4 linked regions of the Homo sapiens genome follow. The protein of the gene in region 1 purifies or fractionates together with the protein of each later gene. This does not show direct contact. Each region holds a gene or a part of one and is shown on either strand. Other genes may lie near its edges. The genes, in order: VSX2, USP33, WDR20 and AHCYL2.

Region 1 (7,030 bases):
TCTAAAAATACAAAAATTAGCCAGGCATGGTGGTGGGCACCTGTAGTCCCAGCTACTCAAGAGGCTGAGGCAGGAGAATTGCTTAAGCCTGGGAGGCAGAGGCTTCGGTGAGCCGAGATCACACCACTGCACTCCAGACTGGGTGACACAGTGAGACCCTGTCTCTAAAAAAAAAGAAGAAAAAGAGAAGAAACGAGGTATGGAAAGCACTTAATATCTGGGACAATGGTGAGTACTTAATAAATGCCAGTAACAACACTGTTTTTATTAAGTTAGCATTATGAAAAAATATTATTATCTTACAAATGAGTAATTTCAGACTCAGGGTTTGGCTTGCTGGCAGTGAAACAAAGACTGGAAGTAGGTGTGTCTGCCTTTCCGCGTCTACATCGCAGGTTCTCATCAGACATCAGACAGTAGACTTCAGACATGCAGGGGTTTCTTGGCTTGGCCCAGCAGGGGTGTATGCTCCAGCGGTCCATCTGGGCCTGTTAAACTTAACCTGCCCTGCACCCCCATTCTACCAATGGCAGCCCAGGGGCTTGTGGTGGGGGAATACTCAGGAGGCACCTCCCTGGAAGGGATCTCACCTCTTTCTTCTACAGATGGGGAAACTGAGGCTCACAGATGGGAAGTGGCCTAGCCTCTGCCACACCAGATGTCAGTTGGAGCTAAAATCCGGGTTCCTGATCTCCAGTTCAATAACCTTTCCATTCCAACTTGATAATTTCTCTCTGTTTTTTTTTTTTGTTCGTTTGTTTTTGAGACAGAGTCTCACTCTGTCACCCAGGCTAGAGTGCAGTGGTGCGATTACAGCTCACTGTAGCCTCTACCTCTTGGGCTCAAGTGGTCCTCCCATCTCAGCTTCTTGAGTAGCTGGGACCACAGGCTTACATCACCATGCTCGGCTAATTTTTAAATTTTTTTTTGTAGAGATGGGGATTTCACTATGTTGTCCAGGCTGGGCTCAAACTCCTGGACTCAAGGAATTCTTCCACCTCAGCCTCCCAAAGGGCTGAGATTACCGGCATGAGCCCCTGCACCTGGCCAGGAATTTCTTTTCTTTTCTTCCAAGACAGGGTCTCGTTTTTGGTTTTTTTTGTTTTTTTTTTTTTTTTTAGCCTGGTCTCAAACTGCTGGGCTCAAGCAATCCTCCCACCTCAGATTCCCAAAGTGCTAGGATTACAGGCCTGAGCCACTGCGTGGCCGAGAATTTCTAACTCCAGACTTGGAGCCAGTAATAACTTCCCCTTTCCTGCTCGTCTCACCTGCAGAGTCCTCTGACCCAAAGCTAGGCTGGGAGGGGGCTGGCTCAGGAGTGGCGGCCAACACGTGGAGGGGAAATGATGGGGAGGGAAGTCAAGGTAGAAAAGCAAGGGTTTTGGAGTCTAAAGAGACTCAACTCTGGCCTCTGTCTGTGCCTCAGGTTCCCCATCTGTCAAATGAGAGTAATAGCCCCTAGCTCATGGGTGTTCTGAGGACTCTGCTGAATATACATGAACTAGCTCTGTGAGGAAATGAAAGACACAGGTGGGCTGCTGGTCGAGGGAGGGCGAGGACTTGCTTTTCACCCTCTTGAATTCATGTACAGAATTTGCCCATTCAAAAATAATTTTGTTATATAAGTGAGTTTTGGGCTGTTTTTTTTTTTTTAAACAGTGCCTGGTACTCAATAAACATTGATTAACTTTACTGTGATACAGGTCCCCCGCCTGACTTCAAATCACCTATGCTCCCCCAGCTTCAAGTCAAAGCAAAGACTTCAAACAGAAGAGGTGGGCAGTGCCACTGTGGGCTTTCGATTCAGAGTTAGGTTTGAGTCTTGTGTCTCCCACTTACTAGCTGTGGGGCCTGGGCAAGAGGCTGTGCCTCAGCTGCCTCAGTTCTCAAAGGAAATTCATGGTCTTCAGCCCCTGATTGTCACCAGGACTTAATAAGATCAGATCTGACACCGAGTGAGCTGGGGGCACGTGCCAGGCACTGCCCTGAATGCTGCACACATATGGCTCATTACCTCCACACAAGAGGCAGGTGCCACTGTCACCCCCATTGTACAGATGAAGACTGAGAGGCTCTGGCATGTGAAGCCCGGCCAGGAGCCCAGCCAGTCTGGCCCCAGAGTCAGTGACCCTAACCATGGTACCACCCTGCCTGTCCTGTGTACATCGTGAACTCAGGAGAACACCTGGCACATGGAAACTCCTCTGGAAACGATCGCTGTGACTGCTATTGATGCACACCAAGATCTTTCCCAGGCCACTTTACTGAACTGGGGCAAGAGGACTTGACAACTCACAGACAGCTTCTGGGGGTAGCATTCAGGCATGTGGTGCTCAAAGGCTCTGAGACTCTTTCCTCATTTCTCCGATATCCACAAATTGCAGAGCCAATCCTCACAGTCCCAGGGCGATGAGCTCTCCTCATCCCACACCCCAAGCTCCTTCCTGCTGGTTCTGGTGCCCTCAGATACCACCTTATAGGCAACCCCCAAGCAACTTAACAAAGCCCTGTTAAGTTAAATGTGCCTGTTGGGGCATTCGTAGCAATGCAGTTACAGCTGAGGGAGAGCCTGCCCCCAAATCCTGAGCTCAGCAGGTTTCAAACACCTCATCCACCCTCCCCCACCTAATCTACCAAGCAGATTTCAGGACAACCCACTGCAAGAGACAAGCTATTCCTTCATTCTGGTCAATACCGCAAATGTGGGGCCTGCCAACAGCGGGGATTTGTCATTGCTCCTCCCTGCCGCAGCCACCTGGAATGGCCAACTTTATGCTAATGAAGGCCAGGCAGGGGTTACTGCCGTGCAGTTTAAGGCTTGGCTTACACACACGCACACACGTGCACACACACAATTCAACATCAACGCCCAGCTTACCTCACAAGAACCCAATTGGGTGGAGGGTAATGGGTCCAGGCCCCCATGGATAATGCACCAAACATAATCTGCTTATGAATAATTGAGCTTATTGTTAGTGTCAATGTCTAAAACCATCGGCTGAAATTCCAAATAGATTTCCAGGGGAGAGGAAGGCCTCACAGCCTCATTTCACATTCTCTGGTCCTCCAGTGAGAGAGTACAGAGCAACCCACACACCTTACTTGGCTCCCCCGGCCTCCCAGGCACACATCACACCTGGAGATACAAGGAACCTAGACTGGGGAGGAGACGCAGAGCAGAGCAGTTCCAGGAAGTCAGGACCAGCCCCTGGCCCACACACCCCAGCCTCCGCAATGAACTAGCTCTGGACCGCTCAGGCGATGGGAGCAGCTTTCATTGAAGGTTGAGCACCAGCTAAGACAACCCCAAATCTTCTGGAAATGTTCCTCCCACCCCACTCCTTCTGCCTCATGGAGGCCCTGCCCAGACTCCATCCTCCCCCAGAGAAATGATTCCACAGCCCTACTCCTGCCCAAGTAGGGGACTCTGGACTTGCCAAGGTCCTGCTGCCGCTAAGTGGAGGCCCCATGCCTACCACATGCCCAGATCAGTGGCTAGTTATGCCACAAAACTGCCCAGGAGAGGAGGAGGGCTTAGTGAGCCACCTGCAGGGCCATGCCCCAGCTCACATCCTAGGCCAAACCTGGGAGAAGAAAAGGAGCAGCAGGTCAGGGCAGCAGTTGCTGGGCTGTGTGTGGGAGGAAGGAGCCTTAGGTGGATGGAGTGGTGGGAAGCAGGAAGAGAAGGGGTAACACTTTCATCATGGGGAGGGGAGGAGAGGGGAGGGAAACAGACTGGGGTCAGGACTAGAAGCCACCTTCCTCTTCACAGCTACCCAGAGGCCTGGGGCACCCTCTGGCCTTGGAACAGACATTTAGCTGTACCAAAGGGACCTCCGCCTCAACAGAGACCCTGCCCAGGACCGGGGGCCCCTCCAGTACTCCACCTCTCATCCCCAGACCCCCGCAGGGTCTGTCTGACATACTCCCCGGGAAGCCTATAGTCTGGAACAACAGCCAGGTCACAACTGGGTGCTTCTCATCCCCCGACAGCACCCACCTCATGTGGCAGGTGTTCAGCTTAAATAGGCTGAGAACATGATCATAGGCAAGCACATGCCCACAGTGGGGCTGGGAGGCGGGGTCATGGGCATCTGGAACCCTGGAGTGGTAGATGTCACCGAGAGAGGGGAGAGTGGAGGGGAGAGGGGCTCAGGGCTGTTACCTGTATCCTGTCTTCCGGCAGCTCCGTTTTCATGGCCAGCATCTCCCGGGCATAGACGTCTGGGTAGTGGGCTTCGTTGAATGCCTTCTCCAGCTCCTCTAGCTGGTAGGAGGTAAAGATTGTCCTGAGGGGAGCAAGACCGAACACTCAGGACCCCAGAAACTAAAAGAGCCTGTCTCAGACAAGACAGAACCGCCTTCCTCTGTGTCTCCTGGGCAGGCCCCGAACCCAGGCTGGCTCAGCACAATAGGACACAAATTCTCTCTCTCTCTCTCTCTCTGTCTCTCTCTCTCTCTCTCTCTCTCTCACACACACACACACACACACACACACACACACACACTTTCTCTCTCTCTTTCACACACACACACACACACACACACACACACACACACACACACACACACTTTCTCTCTCTCTCTGTCTCATAGTTTAACCCTCCGGACTCTTCTTCCTCAAGGCTGAGGGCTCACACTACCCTTCCTGTGTTTGGGGGGTGGCCATTATTTCAGCCCTCAGTGACATTTCACACTGGGAATCTTTCTGGAGGTGCTCTGGGGGAAAGGCTGTCCCAGAAGAAGGACATTCTAGAAAAGCAGAAAGCCCCTCTTCCTCCCAAGCACAGAGAAGAGGGGCTTACCAGATTACTAAATAGCCCAGCTCCACCCAGACCAGCTTCCTGGGCCCCTCTCACAGTCACTAGAGCTGAATTTTTGAATGCCTTTCAAAGTTAGAAGATTCACCGGAAGGTCAAATGCAGCCTCAACCTCAGTGTTTATACAGCAGAGAACTGAATCTCCCACTCCCTCAACTCCCCCCAGCACCCCTTCCTCCTCCCCTGCCCTTCCTCGACATCACCCAGACCTACCAGCCTCCCAGCACTGCCCCGAGCCTTTTCCAGTCCTATTCTGTGCTGACAAGGGAAGGGCCACCTTCCAACCATCCCATACTTGCAAGCTCAGCCACTCACCTGCAGGGGGTTCCATTCGGGCCACCCTGAGAGCCCACAGGCACAGTTCCCCACCCCCAACAGAGCAGTTCATATGGATCTATTTTGTGTTATAAACTGCTTTAAGAATCTGGTAAAAACTACATTCTCTCACCTTAGGAAAATGGGCAAATAAATAGGCCCCAATTTGTAAAATTTTGCCTCCAACATTAGGGGATTCATAGGTCCTCTTTCTTGAATAAACCGCTAAACACCTACTTCCAGACACAAACTCTTCTCTTTTCAAACCTTAATTTCACCAGGTTTTGGGTGGTCTTTATCCTGAAACCTCATTAACAAGCCAACAGGCAATATAGTCCAGCGTCCACAAACTGAACTGGTAGAAATGGTCCAGCCCTTGCCTGGTCCCCTGGGATCAGACTCTGGCGCCAGCACAGGGGTGTAGAATCCCTTATTGCTGGGCCCTCACCCTCGTCTAACACAACCCAAAAGTACAGATTTGAACCTCACACAATCCTTGTGCTGGTGTCCACTTTAATATCTCGGGGGATAATTCAGGGAAGAAAGATTGTGCTCTTTGCAGAAAATGACTGGTTTGATTCTAAATCGTTTCTCCTATTCTCTGGGGGTGGGGGGTGATGATGTGAAATGCTTATGCACACACGAAGTTAATTCTTGAGAATTTTGAAGATCTGCTGCTTTTTCGCTTCTGCCATCTGCTGAAGGGCCCATGGACAGAGCATCAAAATAAACAATAAAGAAATTCAAGTCCTTTCCAAAACCAGGGAAACTGAGGCACAAAGGCAGTCAAAGAGGAGAGCCGATTATAGGTCATGTAGAACCATTCAAGTCTCAGTCCCTACTTCGGAGAGCCCCTCTTCAAAAAACAAAACAAAAACTCAAATCTCCCAAACTTTCCCTAATTCATGCCTCAGAGCTGACACACTTCCCCCATAATGTGACCCAGCCTGTGTTCCTGGTTTATGCAGAACCCCAGACCCTTCAGGCTCCTGTTGTGTCCAGTCTGAAGAGGAGCTGAGCTTTCCCAGTAGAGAGAAAGAGCAAAATCAGAGAGACTCTCACCGTGGCTGCTTTGTCCCCACGCCACCCCCCAAACGCTTTTAAGTCTGGTTTGTTTCTGGGAGATAAAAATAAGCCCATCTCTCATCACCAGATTCCAGGGTCTCTTACCCCAAATCCCCAAATGACAGAAGCTCGAGTAAAATGTATTTTTTCCTAATTAAAACAAGCACTTGAAATCCGTAGCCATTCTCCTCTCTCCAATAACCTTCTCCCTTCATGCAACAGAAATAGAAACCCCAGGCAGTTAATACCCGAGTGTTGGTGAGTTGCTGTTCTGCCCCCATGAAAACCCACCAAAACCCCCAAAGGTGTTCCTGGCGAAGAGAGTGACAGATGAAAACAGACGGTCACTAAGTGCCATGCAGTGAGATGTCCTGATGCGGAAATGCCATTCCTGTACCCAGGGTTTGGGGATGCTTTTTCCAGGGCTCTCCATGCTGTGGGAACCCCTCCCACCCCTCCTGGCACCAGCACAAGGGCAGTTTTGCCGGTCTCTGACCTGCCCTCCCTGCAAGGTCCCTGTCCCTGCCTGGGGAAGATGACAAGATTACCCACCCTGGGACCCGCGTAAGATGGGTGCATAAAAAGTGTTTTAATGAATATTCGTTGAATGAATTGAATGTAAAAAAAAAAAAAAAAGACCAAAGATCAAGACCAAAAAAATTTTTCTTTTTCCTTTTAAAATAAAACAATACAAACTAAACAAATGCAAACAGCTGCCGGAAAAAGAATAGACCGAGATCCGGAGAAACCAAGTCGAAGTTCACCTGCATTCAAGCCAAAACCTATTAGGGCCTAAGGGGTGAGGATAGGCCGTTTTAAAAGGTGGCGGT
Region 2 (7,403 bases), on another chromosome or scaffold:
AAGCCAATAAGCCAGGGAGAAGGGAGAACAAGGTAGAGGAAATGGCAGAGAATTTTTGATATTGCACTGGACAGGATTTTTTTCTAATACTAGGGGCAAAAGGCCACTTTTTTTTATTACTAGAAAATTACTGGAGGACTTTTTTTTTTTTTTTTTCTGACAGAGAGGCTCTTGCTCTGTCACCAAGCTGGAGTACAGTGGCACGATTATAGCTCACTCACTGCAGTCTCAAACTCCTGGGCTCAAGGGATCCTCCTGCCTCAGCCTCTGGAGTAGCTGTACTACAGGCATGTGCCATCGTATCCTGGTATTATTTTTTAAAATTTTTTGTAGAGGCAGAATTTCACTTTGTTAACCAGGCTGGTCTCGAACTCCTGGGCTCAACTGATCCTCCCACCTTGGCTTTGAAAAGTGTTGAATTATAGGCATGAGCCAACACACCTGGCCTGGTGGACTTTTTAATTATGTGACAGTGAGCGGAAAAGCAAAAATGCTTTGCCTAAGATTTGTTTTAAAATATATTTTTCTTTTCTTTCTTTCTTTTTTTTTTGTTCTTGTTTTTGTTTTTTGAGAGACAGGGTCTCACTCCTATTGCCCAGGCTGGAGAGGGGTGGCACAGTCATGGCTCATGACAGTCTTAATTTCCTGGGCTCAAGTGATTCTCTCACCTCACCCTCCATAGTAGCTGGGACTACAGGCATGATCCACCATGCCCGGCTAATTGTTGCAATTTTTTGTAGAGACAGGGTTTCGCCATGTTGCCCAGGCTGGTCTTGAACTCTGGTCTCAAGCAGCCGCAGCTTTCCAAAGTGTTGGGATTACAGGCATGAGCTACTGCGCCCTGCCCAGAAACATATTTTATTTTACTTTGAGACAGAGTTTTGCTCTTGTTGCCCAGGCTGGAATGCAGTGGTGCCATCTCAGCTCACTGCAACCTCCGCCGCCCGGGTTCAAGCGATTCTCCTGCCTCAGCCTCCCGAGTAGCTGGGATTATAGGTACCTGCACCACACCCAGCTAATTTTTGTATTTTTGATAGAGATGGAGTTTCATCATGTTGGCCAGGCTGGTCTCGAACTCCTGATCTCAGGTGATCCGCCCAACTCGGCCTTCCAAAGTGCTGGGATTACAGACGTGAGCCACTGGGCCCGGCCCAAAGACATATTTTAAAGCCCCAGCTTAAATCAGAGTTTCTCAATAGTGGCATTAATGATGTCTGGGACTCTCTTGTAATATCAATGCAAAGGAATGTTACTAATTCTTTCTCCCACCAATCCTCTTCAGAAATATTGCCAACTATCCACTCAGGGGACAAAACCACCCCCAGTTGAGTGCCAACAAGTTTTTGAGTCCTTCAATGCTAGGCTCTGGGAATATTGTGAATAAGATAAATACTCACTGCTCCCATTGAGGAGTTCAGGAGAGACAGGCAAAAAATTAAGTATACCAAAAAATTTAAGATAATTACAAATTATAATACATTCTCTAAAGGAAGCAAGCAGGATGCTGAAACCGGAAATAATGGGGTAAAGAGTTCTGTATTAAACAGAGAATATCTAGGTAGGAGTTAGCCAGGTGAAGGAAGGATAGAGGTTGGGAGTATCTGTAAAATTGTCTCTAAGGAAACAGCATTTACAAAGCTTTATTTAGTCTCAGGTACATAAGCACCAAAATGTATATTTTCTACGTTGCTATTTTTTACTTGCCATTACTCAGTTACAAAAATGAGAAGGTATTTGTTTTTGATAGGACCATTCAATTGTCTTCCTCCCTCCCTGTTTGTATCTCTCCTTCTTTTCTTCTTTTTCTTCCTACTCTTCATTTCTTCTTTTTTCTCCCTTTCATTAGAAGAGACTTCTTTTCTTCTTTTTCTTCCTACTCTTCATTTCTTCTTTTTTCTCCCTTTCATTAGAAGAGACTTCAGTACCTGGCCTGATGCACAACTCTAAGTCATACTATTTACATTATATTCTCCATGAACGGCACCTCTAGAATTCTGTTCCAGAATCAGTATGACTCAGCTGGGTGTCCACACACCCTCTAGAATTCTACTCCAGAATCAGTGACTCAGCTGGGTGTCCACACTTTGGAATGTATAATCTATTCTCTCAAGGGGAAGTTGATTGATTTATTTCCTAATGATAGTGTTCTTCCTTATAAGCCATTATAAGCCATCAGGAGATATTGTTTGAAGAAAAGTAAAAGATAAGCAATCTGGACTGTGGGATGAAAGGATAAACACCCAAGGGTGGGAGGCAGGAATTCACGGAAGTTAAAAGTGGGAGAGGTATTACATTATATTCTATCAGAGTGAGTTTGTTTTGTGAGAACTTGTCCACTGCAAGGACTTCACTTGGTGTCCACCTGAGAAGTACTTGCCTACTATTATCTACGCACTAGTCTCAAACTCCCGATCTCAGGTGATCTGCCCTGCTGGGCCTCCCAAAGTGCTGGGATTACAGGCATGAGCCACCGCACCTGGTGATCTTGAACAGCCTTGTCAGTTGTCTTCCTTGCATTGACACTGCCCTAGAACTCCTCCAGGACAGGTAAGCCCAGAGAGAACCTTGGTTACTAAGCAGGATGGTGGTGGGACTTGGAGGCTGAATTGAATTTGCTAGGACACTGTAAGAACAGAATACCCCTGATACATTTTCAATAGAAGAATTTCTGGGGAAGTGACTTTTGTCTATTTTTCTATTTGGTCGCCTGTTTTTTTAAAAATTGATTTCTGGAAATACATATGGAGTTGAGCCCCTTTTCAATTATATGTATTTCAAATAAATTCTATTTGCTGGCCTAACTTTTCTTCTCTCTCTGTCTCTCTTCTTTTTTTTTCTTCTGTAGATCTCCTCTGTGGACAGCTTTTTTTTTTTTTTTTTTTTTTTTTGAGACAGGGTCCTCCTCTGTTGCCCAGGCTGGAGTTCAGTGGCTCTATCTTGGCTCACTGCAACCTCTGCCTCCTGGGTTCAAGTAATTCTCCTGCCTCAGCCTCCTGAGTGGCTGGGATTACAGGCACGCGCCACCACACCTGGCTAATTTTTGTATTTTTCGTAGAGATGGGGGTTTCACCATGTTGGTCAGGCTGGTCTTGAACTCCTGACCTCAGGTAATCCACCCGCCTTGGCCTCCCAAAATGCTGGGATTACAGGTGTGAGGCTCTGTGCCCGGCTGGAGACAACTTTTCATCTCCTAACGGCATCTTTTTTTTTTTTTCCCAGAGAATATCTCACTTTGTCACCCAGGCTGAAGTGCAGTGGCACAATCATGGCTCACTGCAACCTCAAACTCCTGGTCTCAAGTGATCCTCCACTCTTAGCCTCTTGAGTAGCTGGGACTACAGGTGCCTGTCACCATGCCTGGCGAATTTTTGTATTTTTAGTAGAAATGGGGTTTCGCCATGTTGCCCAGGCTAGTCTCGAACTCAAGTGATTCACCCGCCTCGGCCTCCCAAAGTGCTGGGATTACAGGCATGAACCATGGCGCCTGCCTGTGAAACTTCTATTCTGTGAAATTTCTATTCTCCTCAGTGAACCGAGGATAGGCAATCATTTGTGGTGCAAATTGAGGCCTGAGTGTCAATCCCTACCTAGAATTTTGTATCATGGTTAATTTATTTCATTTTTACCATAAAAATAAGTAGAAGCTTTTATATTTTCTACCTATTCCAATGGAGACTGAGCATCTTGCATGATACTTTGGTACATGCTCCCATTTTGGAGACCAAAAAGTCAGATGTCATGAGACAGATTGAAACTGGCAATTTTAACAATTTTTTATTAATATAACCTTTTTTATTCATAGATTTGAACCTCAATCGAGTGCATTTTAACAGTTACATAATTAGAAGGCAGGACTCCTTCCATGCTCCAGGCATTAAGCAGATACTAAGGTTTCAATAAATATTTGATTTGATCCTCTTGATTTTAGCCTAAGGAGAAAATGGTGAGATAAATTTCTTCTTTGCATAGGTGGAAAAGGGAAACATAATTGCTTTCAGAGAATCTAGGTCCTAAGAAGTTGGGGGAAGAAAGATGAAAGGAGGAAATACAATGTTGAATTGGGATAAGTTAAGTCTAATATTTCTTTGCTCAAGTTTGGAAACCTGAGGCCCTTCAGTGGCCAGCCTTAATGCAGTTTTTGTAATGCATCGAGACAAGACCTTATAATGGTCGTAGTGTGTGACTGTGAAAGAGAAGGAGAAAACATGTGAAAAACGAAAAAAAAAAAGCTCACAGCCTCAAACTGCTGCACATACCCTGTACAGTTAGTTTGCAGTCAGAGTAGGGAGCCGGCCTGGGTCCCCGCACCTGGGCCTGGCTCCCGTGGCCCCGCCCCTGGGGCGGGCTCCCATCGAGGCTCCGCCCCCACCTCCCCTATCGCCGGAGACGCCTGCGGCGGCCCCGGAGACACCGGAAGGAGCCGCGGCTGCTGCGGGAAGTGGCCAGTTCAGGAGGCGGACCCCCCGAGGGCAGCGCTGCGGGGCCGTTTTCCGGCCCTCCTGACGCGACACTGCCCCTCTCCGAGAGCTGAGAAGGAAAAGAGGAGCTTGCGGAGGTGCGGCTGCAGGCCGTTGTTGGTCGAGCTGGCGGGTCCCGCGGGCCAGGCCGTGGAGGTGAGCGCGGCGCTGCTGGGAGGGGCGCGGGGCCCAAGGGCGTTTCGCTCGCGTCCGGGGTCCGGTCTCTGTTCTCGCTTCCGCGCGCTGGGGTTGCGGCCGCTGCAGCAGCCTCTTTTTCTTGGTCCTGGGTGGCGGCGGGTTCGCGGGCGGGAAGAAGGCCTTGGCCCCTCGGTGCTCTGCGTTGCAGAGATAATCTAGTGGTCGCCCTGTCAACGGTCGGTGGAGGATGGGAACCGGTCGTTGATTTGAGGAAGGGTCCTCAGGGGTTCTTCCCTGGAAGCGGGAGGTGCAGGTGAGCCCGAGAAGCGGGGGCTCTGCTCCCTTCCTCGGTCTCCCCACTCAGGCTTGCCAGTCCCTCTCAGTGGGTGACTGAAAGCCCTGCAGCGCGCCGGCTCCTGGGTTCTGGTTTCGCTTTTCGGCGCTGTTGAGGGGGCCGGCCCCGTTGTTTGTTGTTGTGAACGGAAAAACCGAGGTGTCATCGTCCCTGGAATTTTTCTTCGACCAATGTTTGATCTTGACTGAGAGGTTACCCCTTACCTTCTGTCCATCTGCAGCCTTTGTTTGGATGAAAGATCCATAGTGTGTGGTTTCCCAGACCTTTACTTATATTTCTCGTATACAAAACGCTCTTCATTTGAATATTTACAGGGTTTTACGTTGAGCTCTTGGACGATGAGATTTTCCTGGGTGTTTTGCACTCAAGTACCGTTGGAGTTTACATTCTCATAGAATCAGTATTAGGCCTGGAAAATTGAGCCAGAGGGTGAAATTCTGGCAGGAGCATAGACTTAAATTGAAGGTGAATTTTACCGTAACGATCTCTAGGCCTTTTGCTTAATAACTATGTGGATGTAGAGAATTTTTAAGTTTAATCAGATTATTTTTCCTTTAAGAAAAACGTGTTACAAAAAGTAACAAGGCCGTCCTAGTTCCGTTTTTCCTACTGTCTTATTTGGAAAGGTCTGACCAAGTCACATTATCGTCATAGGCTATTTGATTTGAGCATAATACAAATATTGTTAGTGAATTCATACTATTATAAATAAGAGAGAAAATAGGAATCTTAAAGACAATGCTAGTTTTATGAAAAAATAATAGAAATAGTTACACAATGCTAGGAGCTTTGTATTATTTCATTACTTTGGCAGGATTGAAAGAAAGGTCAGGGCTGGGCACGGTGGCTCACGCCTGTAATCCCAGCACTCTGGGAGGCCGACGATCACGAGGTCAGGAGATCGAGACCATCCTGGGTAATACGGTGAAACCCCGTCTGTACTAAAAATTACAAAAAATTAGCCGGGCATGGTGGCAGGTGCCTGTAGTCCCAGCTACTTGGGAGGCTGAGGCAGGAGAATGGCGTGAATCCGGGAGGCAGAGCTTGCAATGAGCCGAGATCATGCCACTGCACTCCAGCCTGGGCAGCAGAGCGAGACTCTGTCTCAAAAAAAAAAAAAAAAAAAAAAAGGACAGTACAAAAAATATTATTGGAATAAAATATTTGACCTGATATGTGCAAGAGGGATAGTCTACTTAAGATTGCTTCCTATTTATGATCTGGTTTATGGCCAGTTTCACTTTTTTTCTGTCTTTTCTGAACTTTTTATAACTTAACAGTAAGCAAGTCTTTTTATATAACTGCAGTTTAATGACATTAGATTGTAGTAAATAGGTGATTTTAAATATTTGAAATTCAGAATTGAGATGATAATTCTTACATTTATGTAGTAGTATTAGAATTTTCTGTGACCTTTCACTTACACAGTCTTACTTGATCCTCATGCCAGTCCTCTGAGCTCCGAATGCCAAGAAATAAAGTCTTTCCCCATGACAGAAACATTTCAAGATTGTGTAAGGATCAGAATTTCGTAAAGCCTGAAATAATGTTGCCAAAGCAGCTTTTGATACAGATTGGGAATTCAGATAGATTAAGATTGGAGCACTGTGAACTATAACATATGACAAGACTGTGGACTCTTCACAAGAAAATGAAGTACATAAAATGCTGAAAGATTTTTGGTGAGAAATGTGAAATGTAACCATTTCTAAAAAGGAAGGGAATAAGTAACAGCTCTATTTAGTGTAGTTTTTAAACTTTAAAAGTGTACATGTGTCTGCAGGAACATTTTGATAAGTGGGAAAACTCCAAAGAGTGTGAGATGAGTACAGTTGCTTTTAACTATCTATAAAAAGGCACATGAATTATGTGCTATATTGTATACTGAGAACTAGTCTTTAAGAAACAATATGTATATCAAAATAAATCATGCTGTCAAATGTTCAGAAGGTTAAGTTAGGTCAATATTTTGAGTCTACCAGGACAAGGCCCTTTGGAAAACAAAAAGAATGAAACGTGGTTTCTGCCTTCAAAGAACTTGTAGTCAAGTGAGGCAATTTTTTACACAACAGTAAATGCCTTATGAGTTTTTATAAAAGTTCCTTAGGAATTTAGGTGAGGTAGACATTACTTGTGATTGGGGCTTGGTGAAGGTAGTATTTGAGATGAGTGAGCTTTGAAAGGTAAATATTGGAGGATATTTGTAATGTGAACAGATTAATGAGCTCCTTGAAGGGTACAACTTACATTTGAGAAAACATCGGTAGAACAATGTGGCTGATATTCATAGTTTATGTAAGTTAATAATAGATAAAGAAGACAAATTATGAAAGACTTCACTGAAGGTGTTTGATCAGAAGAGGTATGTGATCCACATGAAAGGAAAATGAGCTGTAACTGTTAGAAGATTGAGACTGGAAGACTGCTGGGGTGGCTTTATGTTAAGCTAGATT
Region 3 (5,161 bases), about 28 Mb from region 1:
CAGGCCACCAGGTCCTGGGCTGAGGCGCTAGGGTGGGAGCCACTGAGGACGAAGCCTACGCACATGGCCAGCGTCAGCATCCCAAGAGTAATCCCGGAACCACAGCTGCCATCCAAGAACAAGGAGAGGGGAAACCTGCACTTCCGCTTCCTCTGCGGGGGACGAAGCCCAAACGAGGGCCATGTCAGGGAGAAGTCGGAAGACTCGGGGAGTCTCAGGCTTTACGAAACAAAGCGCGGAGGAGTCACGTGCCTTTCTGACCCAATCCCCCTCCCCCACCGCACCTCCCCGCCCCCGGCAAAAAACCAAAAAACTCCTTTTCCCTTGTTGGGAAAACACACAAGCAAAGTGCATCTGAAGAAAAGGTCTTCGCTTATGTGGCAAGAGGCACTTCTGCAATGCTGTTGGCGTCCTCGGCCCGCAGTTCCCACGAACTGTCAGGCTCTGAGTGAGGTACGGGTATCTTAGTACACAGAACCTCAATCAAAGTGCTACAAACTGCTTCTTTGAAAAAAGATGTTTATTAAACAACTTTAATTGTCATAAAATGACTAAAATGGGTTTTAAAAATTAAGGCTCTTCTCTTTCTGTGGATTGCCAGAACAATGTAAAAATAATATCAATCAACCCTGCTAAACGTTTTGTTCCTAAAGTTAAATTTCATAGATTCCTAAACATTTTATGATTAAGATAAAAAATTGGACTATAAATGACAATTCATGGCCATCTGTGCTGAACACACATTGATCAGGTGTACAATATTCTAATTGAGTAGTTAAGCAAAAAATATTCCAGTTAAAGCATAAATTTTAATTTCAGCATTTTAAAGTCATTGTTTCCCCACATGGTCATGATTTTCCTAAAATTGAAATAGTCTAATACAGGAGCGCTAACCTTGGGACTCTATATACTCCCAGGAGGATGACTGACTTGGCTGGCAATTAGTTTGATTATATTTTTTTAAATGCTCTAAGGTAAATTATCAAATGATTCAGAATTACATGGCATGCAGTATCCAAAATTATGGCTCTGATGCATTGAGATTTACATTAAGAATAAGAAGTGTCATTCACATTCATTGTACACCCCACCCCTCCCACGAAAAAGAAAAAAGTCACTACCTATTCAAGTTCTAGATCTGGTGCAGCATTAAGGATTAAAACTTACCACTTTACCAGGCCTTCCCCATGTGCAAATAAATCCCTCCTGACAAGCAGTGACTATACAGTCTTCAAGAAATATTAGTACAGTCAGTCTCTCATGTGCTATCTTTTTACATATCAGCGGCTCTAACAAGGGAACATCTTCCATTCGAGGACACAGGGGCGTTCCCAGAGTTTTAGCAGGGTCCGTTTTGGTTTTGGTAACTAGATTCAGTTTGTCACTGCTCTTGCTAGAAATGTGTCCCATGCTATGATTTCGCTTGTGATCTTTCTCGTGGTGCCTCTCCTTCCGGTCATGTAGTGAAAGTGTTGCAAATTTGCTGACCCCAGAAGCAATGGCCCCGTCCATGACACTGCTTTTGCTGCCAGCATTTGAGACTGCTGAATGTGGAAGGCTGTTGGACCGTGGCAGAGGAGGCGGCACAGAGTTCCCGGGTGTTGTAACACTGTTCCCATTGCTTCCAGCAGGAGGACTCGTGGCATTCATGACATTTGTGTGTGTCCTTGCTCTTGAGAGGGGTTGGTGAGGGAAAAGGATATCTTCTGTAAGGTCCCATAAACAGAGCTGTGTGTCCTGGCCCACGGAACCAAACCGATACGTGACACTTACGGGGCGGCTGTCTGTAGAGTTCCGTTTGGAGAGCCTGGACTGTGTACTATTTGCTCGATCTCTGCCAAAATGAAGAAGGTCTTGGAAGTCCTCATCGCTGCCACTAAACTCCATAGGGTCACCTTCTTCTACACTAGTGGTATAAGGGTCAAACGCTACAACACTGACCCAGGACTTGTGCCCGTGGCCTCTGGCTATTACTCGGCAGTCTACAAAGGACCAGACTGTCACCAAGTCGTCCTCCCCACCTGTCACGATGTACTTGCCATCCGGGCTCCAGCACACACACAGCAAGCCCCCAAAGTAGCTTTTCATCGTACCGTGCAGCTCCACTGAGTCAAAGTTGAACACCCGCAGAAACCCGTCCTGGCTCACGCACGCTAAGAACTTGCCATCTGGGGAGAAAGCAAACTCGTTGAGGGCCCCCTCGCCCACCGTCCACTTAAGGAGAGGGTTCCTCGTGGATTTGCTCTTGCAAGTGTGCACGGCAAAGCTCTCTCCCTGCTTCAGAAGCTGGTAGTGGGGGGCTGTGGTGCCACAAGTGTGCTCCACATTATATAAGTACATGTTCCCACTCGAGTGGGCTACTAGGAAAAGGCTTTCCGAACCGGGAACCCATTTGACACAGGTAACTCGTGACTTGTCTATTAGTCTCTGTGAAGACAAAGGAGAACAAGTTAGCACAACGGAGAAGTCTCAAAGGTCTACTTTTCCAGCAAGAAAACTTGTGTGCTTCTCGATGGGAAGGGGCAAGTCTATCCAGGCCCTCCACATTTTATCCTGCAGTCAGCCAAGCCAGCAAGGAGCGTTTTGGCCCTTTTGGGGTAATTTAGAATTACTTTCTAAAATCGGTGTTAGGCTGCTGGCTTTCACGGAGGGAGTCAGGCAGCCAACAGATATTTGCAGAGGGGCCACTAAGTGCCAGACACGATGCCAGGCACAGGGTTCACTGCGGAGGGAACAGCCCTGCTGGGATCTTTCTTCCTTGACAGTAGGTGCATCTGAATCTGGGGGTCACTGCATCTGCATGTGGTATCCCCTCTACGAGGACCTGCAGGTGAAGCCTGTGAGTCCTCACAGCCAGGAGGGCTCTGCCTCACCCTCACGGGTTCCTCTGCCTTTACTGTCACTGTAGGTAATGGGCTGGTTCCATCTGCCCCTCTGCTCTGGCGGCTCGAAGGTGGGGAGTGAAATCCACAGTCCATGGCTGGCAGCACACACAACTCCAAAACAGAGCCTGGGCCCACTGAGGCCGCCTCACTCCCATGCACCGCCCCACGTGCATCTCCATAAGCATCTCCTCGAAACCCTCTCTGCTGGTGTTGAGAGAGATACACTGACGATTCATTCGGGAGTGTGTGTCTCATTACCATCACTCTGCTCCATATGCTAACTTTGGACCCCTGACCGAGATGTTTCTTTAACAGGCGTATGTCAGTAGTCTTGCCTTTAAAACCCAAATAACGAAGGGCAAAAATACCTGCCCCACCAAAGGCACAAGTCTCTTTCCCTGCTTGCCAATCAATCCTGTGATGGGGATGCCAGCGCAACACCTTCCACAGGGGCGGTCCCTTTCTGGACCGTCTGAGCGCAAAATCGCATCACCAGAACACATCCAGAAGTCCCAAGACTCCCAAGTTCTACCTAGAAGCTCCTACTGCCAAGTGCTCTCCACTGCACCATCGCCCCAGTAACAGTGTCCCTTTAGGAGCCCAGCAGCCCCAGGTAAGTTGAACACCACCGCTTCACCTAACAGGTGGGGAGTCCCTGACTCAAGTCTCAGAGGGGTACTGGGCACACAGGGGCAGAATCTGCCAAGAAACATGCCGACTTCTGCCAGGGTGGCTTTGAGGCCATGTGCCCGCCATGTGTGCTACATCTTTACAGAGAATTACAGAAATAAGACGACTTGATTTTTAAAAGAACGGCTGGGAAAGAAATTAATGAGCCATGCAAGCTCACTGCATGAACATTAGACCCTAGAAAGTAGGCTGCTAACAAAGGACCCCAGGCAGGAAGAACGGAGGCCTGAACGCCACACAGCATGCGGGCCCAGGGCTGGGGACCATGCATTGGGCAGTTACTCAGCAGCAGGTGTCACTGCTTACTGCCGTAAAACGGCATGGCTGGTCCTCTTAAATTAATAGGCACGTGGCAAGCCAGCCTTGGGGACACAGCCAGTATTTTCATCCCCCACCTCCTCTTTATCCTCCTGCCTGGTGACCTACCTATAAACAGCACCTGACCTGCACTAATGCCAACAACCTAAAACCCAGCGCTGCTCTGGCAGGATTTCCATTAGACCTTCGTGCAATTTTCTCAGCAAGGGGTTACAGAGATAATTTACATGGCCAGAGCAGGGCTTTTTTTTGATGGTGGAGGGAGGTGCAAGGATGATGGGATGGTGAACGGTGGATTAAGAGGCCTCCACTCCCCCATCACAGCTCTGCCAGACCTTGCTGTGCCCACTGGGCCCAGACTACCCCAGCACTCTTGATCCCACAAACACAACTGTACCTGATCGCCCAGGGCCTAAGGGTGTCTGCAGCTCGCTCCATCACTGGCCTTGTCAGGCAGGCCTACACCAGCTAACTCAGGCCTGGGAAGCCAGACTGCTGTCCTGATTTTGGTACAGTGGCTCCCAATTCCTGCACCTTACATTTCACCAGAACCAAATCAAATCCCAGTTTTTCTAGGATCACTTCATTGTTACTCTATTTACCATGTGTGGAGAAATTTCAGGACATAAAAACTTCTAGCAGCACGGTTAGGAGTAAATTTTATTTTGGGCCTTAAAAAACACAACAAAAAACTGCATGAGAACTCAAAAACTAGTATGATCAAGTAAAAACAGTATTGCTTTGCAATAGTGAGGTATGAACAGCATTTATAGCACCATTAAAAATAAATGTTACTGCAATGACAAAACACATTAAAAACCTTCACTCCCGTATTAAGAAGCTGCACTGTGGCCAGGCGCGGCGGCTCACGCCTGTAATCCCAGCACTTTGGGAGGCCGAGGAGGGTGGATCACTTTAGGTCAGGAGTTCGAGACCAGCCTGGCCAACATGGTGAAACCCTGTCTCTACTAAAAATACAAAAATTAGCTGGGCATGGTAGTGCGAACCTGTAATCCCAGCTGCTCTGGAGGCTGAGGCAGGAGAATCACTTGAACCCAGGAGGCGGTGGCTGTGTGCAGTGAGCCAAGATCACGTCATTGCATTCCAGCCTGGGCGACAAAGTCAGACTCCATCTCAAAAGAAACAACAACAAAAAAAAACAGTGCACTGAGACGACCCTAAGTAGACACATGGATGTAACTTACAGATAACATCCTGTGCCAATCTACTTCAATCCCCCTGTGGGGGCCTAATTAAATGTTACTGTG
Region 4 (7,030 bases), on another chromosome or scaffold:
CCCTTTAGGCTTTCTGAATACCTATAGTAGATTCAAGATCTAGTGGCCTAGTAACTACAAGTTACCAATCCATAAGAAAATCCTCGGTTAGTTGCTGTATATTTTGATACAGTAGATATGTCACGGGGAGGGTCGTTTGGCTGCGCGAATTACAATTGGCCTTTCTCCTCTCATTGTCTTTTACTTCAATATAATGACTATTTGGCAGATTATTGTATTTACTCTGGCTTTAAGTTACTTTGCATAACCATATGGGAAATTTTAAATATCTGTAAATTGCTAATTAGATTGGGATGCAAGACCCAGAGAAGCACTGAAGCCTTGAGACTTCAGCAAAGTGAATGATGTTATTGATGCTTACTATTGCAGATCTTGGATGATGGAGGGGATCTTACCCACTGGATTTATAAAAAGTATCCCAACATGTTTAAGAAAATCAAGGGCATAGTAGAGGAGAGTGTTACTGGAGTTCACAGGTAAGATTTGACATGGGCATACCTGGTTTTATGCAGTCTAGACATAAAATCTTATAAACACATACCTATAAAACACATGTTAAAAATTGGAGCCTGGGCCAGGCGCGGTGGCTCACGCCTGTAATCCCAGCACTTTGGGAGGCTGAGGTGGGCGGATCACGAGGTCAGGAGATCAAGACCATCCTGGCTAACACGGTGAAACCCCGTCTCTACTAAAAATACAAAAAAATTAGCCTGGTGTGGTGGGCGCCTGTGGTCCCAGCTACTCGGGAGGCTGAGGGAGGAGAATGGCATGAACCCAGGAGGCGGAGCTTGCAGTGAGCAGAGATCATGCCACTGCACTCCAGCCTGGGTGACAGAGCGAGACTCCATCTCAAAAAAAAAAAAAAAAAAAAAAAAAAAAAAATTGGAGCCTGCTATGAGGTAACCACATCTCAGCTTGCTATGAGGTGACCAGATCTCAGCTTGCTATGAGGTGAGCAGATCTCTCTTGTTTTTTTTTTTTAATTAACAACACAAATAATGAACCTAAAATAGTGAGAAGGGGGCAGGTGGGAGAACAAGTGAAGTCCTCATGTTTTCTAGTGATTGTAAACAATTAACTTGTCCTTTTTGGACACATATATTCATTCATTCATTCAACAAATATTTATTGAACTTCTACAATGAATGAGGAACTGCTCTAGATGCTAGGAATCTAGCAGTAGACAAAACAGACAGAAAAAAACTCTGCCATCTTAGAGCTTACATTCTTACATGGAGAGCAAGGATGTAGGGTTCTGCTTCTCAAATGAGTAATAATTCTCTGAGTAAAATTGGAATTATTTCAGTTCAATTTCTGTGATCATTTCTATGATTTATTTCACCCATAAAGAACTAAAAGTATGAAAAAAAAAAGTTGTAGGGAAGTAAATTCTGAACCAGCCACCATCACTGCTTCAATACATTATCATCTTTTTGAATGTACAAAACTGAGGTCAGGAGTTCAAGACCAGCCTGGCCAACGTGGTGAAACCCCGTCTCTACTAAAAATACAAAAATTAGCTGAGTGTGGTGGCGGGCGCCTATAATCCCAGCTACTCAGGAGTCTGAAGCACAAAAATCGCTTGAACCCTGGAGGCAGAGGTTGCAGTAAGCTGAGATCACACCATTGCTCTCCAGCGGGGACAACAAGAGTGAGACTCCATCTCAAAACAAACAAACAAACAATAAAAGCACAAACAGCCAGGCGTAGTCTCATGCACTTGTAGTTCTGGCAGGCAGGGAGACCAGTGCAGATTTAGTGAACATTGTACCTAGTAGGTAATTTTTCAACCTTCAACCCGCTCCCACTCTCCCACTTTTTATAGTCTCCAGTGAAGGCCTTAAAATTTAGAGGTGGGTCAAGGATTTCCCCCACATGACTTTTGAATAAAATCTTTATTGTGAAGCTATATATGCAGGCTCTAGAAAGATATTCTTTATTTCTCAGTGGCCACCTAACAGGATGAAACTAGTCATGTCTCATGGTCTCATGCCTACCCAATCAACGTATTTCTGGGGCCTCCTATGAAAGCAATGGTAGATTGTAATGTCCTGGTGTTTTTTGTTCTTGGCTTCCCTCATCCTCAGGCTGTACCAACTGTCCAAAGCTGGGAAGCTGTGTGTTCCAGCCATGAATGTCAATGACTCAGTCACCAAACAGAAATTTGACAACCTCTACTGTTGCCGTGAATCAATTCTTGATGGGTAATGTTTATTATCTTTGAGATGAAGTTGTGATGTCCAGTTGAGATTCTAAGTTTTTTGGCTTTGGTTATTTCTGGAAAGGATTCATGTAGCACCTCTGGATAATGTCTCCATAAAGCCAGAGCTTTGTCACCTCATAAATTAAAATTACATTATTTTTATTTTCTCCTTTGTATCTTTTCTATTTCTAAATATTATATTTTCAAAATATTATCTAATAAATGTATGTTGCTTTTATGTTTAAAAGTTACTGTGTTATCTACATCTTCTTCCTTTCTGCACCACTTGCAAGAAAGGGGAAAAAAAAAGGAAAAAAACCCTTACATATAGGATTGGTTAGATGGCAGGGAGTGAGAAAATATGTATTTTATTTAACCTTCCTGTCTGGTCATTAGTTTCTCTAGGATAGAAACCAGACTTTCAGTGTTACAGGTCTTTTAGAATTTGTCTAGCAGGTTTTCTGGTCTTTACCAGAAAACCCCTTTAAAAAAATAAAGAAACCAGACTTTCTTTCAAAATGAAAAACCAACCAAAAAACCCCATGAAAACAAAGAGATTCAATCTAACCTCAAGGGAGAAACAAGAGAAGATTTTTCTGATTTAATGTTTTTTTTTCCCCTAGACTTAAAAGGACAACAGACATGATGTTTGGTGGAAAGCAAGTGGTAGTCTGTGGCTATGGAGAGGTGAAGTTTAACCTTTTGTTTATTAGGTGTTTTAAATGGATTTTGTTGAAATATTCTGGAATTTTTTATTTGTATGGACATATGAGTACACCCTTTACCACTTTAGATGAGAAAAAGAATTTCAGAGGCCTTCTGGTTGAAGTAGACTTTCTTTTTCCCTTTGCGTTGCCGCCATTTTCCCTTAAGTTGATTTTCTGACTTGCTCCAGTACCACCGTTTGTGATGTTCTTTTTAGCTTGTGTTTTAATTATGAATCGTGAGTGTGGGTGTTCTTGTGCACATGAATGCGATAAGCAGGAGCCAGGGGTTTGTTTATGAGCTGCATTCAATTATTTGTTCTTCTCGTTTTCCCCAAGTATGAATCTATTCAGTGAAATTCCTCTCGGGGGTGGAAAGAGGGGGTGCACTTTACCAGAAGCTTTGAGAAATGGTTTTCTCAGTGACTTTCCTTAATATGTGTGCTCTCTCCCCTCTTCAGGTGGGGAAAGGGTGCTGTGCTGCCCTGAAAGCCATGGGCTCCATTGTGTATGTAACTGAAATTGACCCCATCTGTGCCCTGCAAGCCTGGTAAGCCTCTACGCTACCATCTCACTTGCAATCTCGGAGCTGTCTCCAAAGAATGGCCTGGTTGATGCCACACTTTATTTTAGAGGAGCCCAGATCCTCAGAGATGCTGCCACTAACTCTAAGCATCTGTCTTTTAAAAAGGTCAAGGAGCTCTGCTTGGAGAGAGCAGAGACTATCAGAAAAGCGAAAATTTAGAAATCCTGTGGAGATAGTAACAGGGATTCTGTCAGCCAGAGAACAGGTAGCCCCTTACCTTCTCCATGTATGATACTTGCCTTTCAAATAATGATCAGAAAAGAAATTGGCAGGCATCAGATGCCTTCTGATGTGTTACACTGAAAATAGCCCTTCTGTGGTATTCCTCCCAAAAATGTATAACCTGAATCTAATTGTGAGGAAACATTAGACCAATCCCAGTTAAGGGTAAAATCTACTAACTCTGAGTGAAGCATATATGAGAATTATTTACACTAGTATTATAATTCTTAAGTTTGAAATGATTCTAAAATTAAAAGTTAAAACTTTTCTTATCTATAAAATGTGTGTAATCATACCTACCTCATAGGATTGTGAGAGTTCAGTAAAATAATAATTAGCATAGGCTGGGTGTAATGGGTTCATGCCTGTAATCCCAGCACTTTGGGAGGCTGAGGCAGGAGGATTGCTTGCGCCCAGGAGTTCGAGACCAGCCTTGGCAACATAGGGAGACCCCATCTCTACAAATAATTTTTTTAAATTAGCTGGGTGTGGTGGTGCATGCCTGTGGTCCCAGCTACTTGGGAGGCTGAAGTATGAGTATCACCTAAGCCTGGGAGGTGGAGGCTGCAGTGAGTTGTGATTATGCCACTACGCTCCAGCCTGGGTGACCCAGCAAGACCATGTCTCAAAATAATTATTATTCTATATTATACATTATATAACAAATACATAATTATATAAGGTACAGAGCTGCTGCCACATAATATATGCTCATTAAATAATAGCTGTTATTAAAATTGTCTCTTGCCATCCTCAGCAGGGTGGGAAATACCACTGTTCTTAAAAACTATTGCAGAGTCCAAGTGTCTGTAGCCTAGGGGAACCATCATCCTTCTGGTACACTAAGAGTTTAGGAACCTGAACATATTTTAATACAAATTGATACTGTTCAGATACTGAACAGTTCAGATTATCCTGTTCAGATTATCCTGTAGACACGAATTGATCACTTACTATGCATTAGATACTGTGCTATGTGCTGAGAATGAATAAGATGAATATATAAATGAGATAAGGTCCTGCTTTTAGAAGCACACAGACAGATAACCACTGTGCAGCAAAGTAAGTGCTGTCATGGAGTTAAACGGCACATGCTTCTGTAGGAGCATAAAGGAGAAATTGCTTACTGAAGAGCAAGGGAGCAGGGTAGAAAGAGATGTCAGCAGAGCTGAGTCTTGACATTTGTATAGGTGTTTTCTTAGTTTGGAAGTATATTCCAGGTACTGGGAACATGTGTGTTGTCTCCAAGGAAGGAGATAGCATGGCAGATTTAAGAAGCTAGAAATATTTTAATGTAGTTGGCAGATGAAATACATTTGGGGGAGTGGTACTATCTAAGGTAGGAGTCATGGGAGTCATATGTCAATATAATCACATATCACTGTAAGTATTTGGGTCTTACTCTTATCCTGTCTTATCCTTAAGAACAGGCAGTCTCACTGAAGTATTTTAAGGAAAGGAAGCGACATGATCCAAATTGCATTTAGGAAAATCACTCTGCCAAATGATTTAGAAAGATGTAAACCTAGAGGCAATGAGATTGGGCCAGGGGTTACTATAGTAATCTAGGCAAGAAGTAATAAGACCTAAACTTAAGCAAGGCCAGTATGTATTAGAGAAGAGTAGAGAGATGAAAGAGACGTTTATGGAATTAAAGAAAAAGAGTCACCCAGATTTGGTGACAACTTCAATTCAGGAGAGGCAGCAAGGACATTCTTGTTTATATGGCTCATTCAGTTGGATGAACAGTGATGCTATTGATCAAGATAGAAAATATAGAAGAAGAAATAGATGAGATTATGGGTGCAGAGAAAATAATAAGTTTATTTTCAAACACAGTAAGTTTGAGATCCTTCTGGGACATTGATGAGGTGCTATCCAGTGGCTAATTTGATCCTTGGCTATGAAGCTTCAGAGAGATCTAAGCTAAAGTTACAAATGTAAAAATCAGCCATCTATCAGCAGTCATTTGCAGCCAAAGGAAGAGTATGGTTCTCTATACTGAAAGAATAGAGAAAAGAATAAAGGCATAACCCTGCAGAGCACCAATATCCAAAGGTTGGCTGAAGTTGAGGAGAGGCAATTAAGAGAAGTAAGAGGAAAACCAGGAGAGATGTATCATGGAGTCCAAGGGGTATAGAGTTTTAAGAAGGCAAATAATGTTTAATGTAGTAGAAGAAATCAAATAATATAAGAGTCTAAGAAGTTGGGCATGGTGGTGTATGCCAATAGTCCTGGCTACTCAGGAGGCTGAGGCAGGAGGATTGCTTGAGGCCAAGAGTTAGAGGCTGTAGTGCACTATGATTATGCCTGTGACTAGCTACTGCACTCCAGCCTGGGCAGCATAGTGAGATCCCATCTCTAAAAAAAAAAAAACACACACAGTTAAGAGTCTAAGAAATCTTGGGTTTGGCCTTCGGGGGATCACTGATGATCTTGGAGAGAGCAGTTTCAATGGGGTAGTTGGTTAAATGGCTAAGTGGCACTTTCTACAGTTTCTAGAAATTTGGTCAGGGAATCTCATGGTAGCCCCTGGCTCCCTATTATCAGGAAGAAATAAGTTCCGTGATGCAAACGAACCTTTTATTTCTGTCTTGTATGAACTAAGGAAATTGTTTGGATTTTTCACTTCTAAGAATAGTTCAGCTATCTCAAGAAATGACAGCAACTTGATATTAGCTTTTGAAGTCCTGTGTTAAAAGGCTCCCCAGCTGCCTGTTTAGGTTAATGGGTCATGCTTTATTTCAACAGTATGGATGGATTTCGACTGGTGAAATTAAATGAGGTCATCCGACAAGTGGACATTGTTATTACCTGTACAGGTATGATAATGACATTTTAAATGGGGTGGCACTTGGGAATGTTTTTATGGAGCAGGTGCAAGATGATTGGAAATATTCTGAAAAACCAAACTCTAAAAGCTAGAGAGAGATAGTAGCCCACAAAGCCAGCCAGTCTTTCACATTCTTCCTAATTCTTTAGAGCTCCGACCAAAGGTATACGATTAGGTTATTCCTATGTAAAAATGTTTCTCTTCACCCTTGAAGACAACTGTTATATCTCCATTCATCCTAGGAGATAGCTAGAGATGAGATTCACTTATAAAGTTTTATTTGGGAAGCCAGATATTTTTTTTTTCCAAAAATATATTTATTTTTAAAAACAGAAAATCAGATCAGTTTTATAGAGTCAAATTTTCAAGAGACAAACCAGAGTTTGGATTCCAGCTTAGAGTGCAAGTGAAGCATCAGTAATCTCATGCAGAAGATTTGTCTCTGCAGGAGGTACATTCTGCTTGACTGCAAGCACTCAATT

Evidence for each region.
Region 2: the proteins of VSX2 (region 1) and USP33 purify together in Homo sapiens (affinity purification with mass spectrometry; 3 studies listed by BioGRID and IntAct, with this or other methods). This does not show direct contact.
Region 3: the proteins of VSX2 (region 1) and WDR20 purify together in Homo sapiens (affinity purification with mass spectrometry; 3 studies listed by BioGRID and IntAct, with this or other methods). This does not show direct contact.
Region 4: the proteins of VSX2 (region 1) and AHCYL2 purify together in Homo sapiens (affinity purification with mass spectrometry; 3 studies listed by BioGRID and IntAct, with this or other methods). This does not show direct contact.

The regions. Positions count from the first base shown.
Region 1 is NC_000014.9:74,242,424-74,249,453, reverse strand, and holds part of VSX2 (visual system homeobox 2), read right to left. Parts: intron 4,290-7,030; coding exon 4,166-4,289; intron 1-4,165.
Region 2 is NC_000001.11:77,756,853-77,764,255, reverse strand, and holds the start of USP33 (ubiquitin carboxyl-terminal hydrolase 33), read left to right. Parts: upstream 1-4,403; 5' UTR 4,404-4,613; intron 4,614-7,403. UniProt on the Homo sapiens protein: Deubiquitinating enzyme involved in various processes such as centrosome duplication, cellular migration and beta-2 adrenergic receptor/ADRB2 recycling.
Region 3 is NC_000014.9:102,205,869-102,211,029, reverse strand, and holds the end of WDR20 (WD repeat-containing protein 20), read right to left. Parts: exon of another isoform or gene 2,428-5,161; coding exon 1,150-2,427; 3' UTR 503-1,149; downstream 1-502. UniProt on the Homo sapiens protein: Regulator of deubiquitinating complexes. Activates deubiquitinating activity of complexes containing USP12. Anchors at the base of the ubiquitin-contacting loop of USP12 and remotely modulates the catalytic center of the enzyme.
Region 4 is NC_000007.14:129,403,010-129,410,039, forward strand, and holds part of AHCYL2 (adenosylhomocysteinase 3), read left to right. Parts: intron 1-369; coding exon 370-476; intron 477-2,087; coding exon 2,088-2,204; intron 2,205-2,826; coding exon 2,827-2,890; intron 2,891-3,368; coding exon 3,369-3,457; intron 3,458-6,466; coding exon 6,467-6,537; intron 6,538-6,848; exon of another isoform or gene 6,849-7,030. UniProt on the Homo sapiens protein: May regulate the electrogenic sodium/bicarbonate cotransporter SLC4A4 activity and Mg(2+)-sensitivity. On the contrary of its homolog AHCYL1, does not regulate ITPR1 sensitivity to inositol 1,4,5-trisphosphate.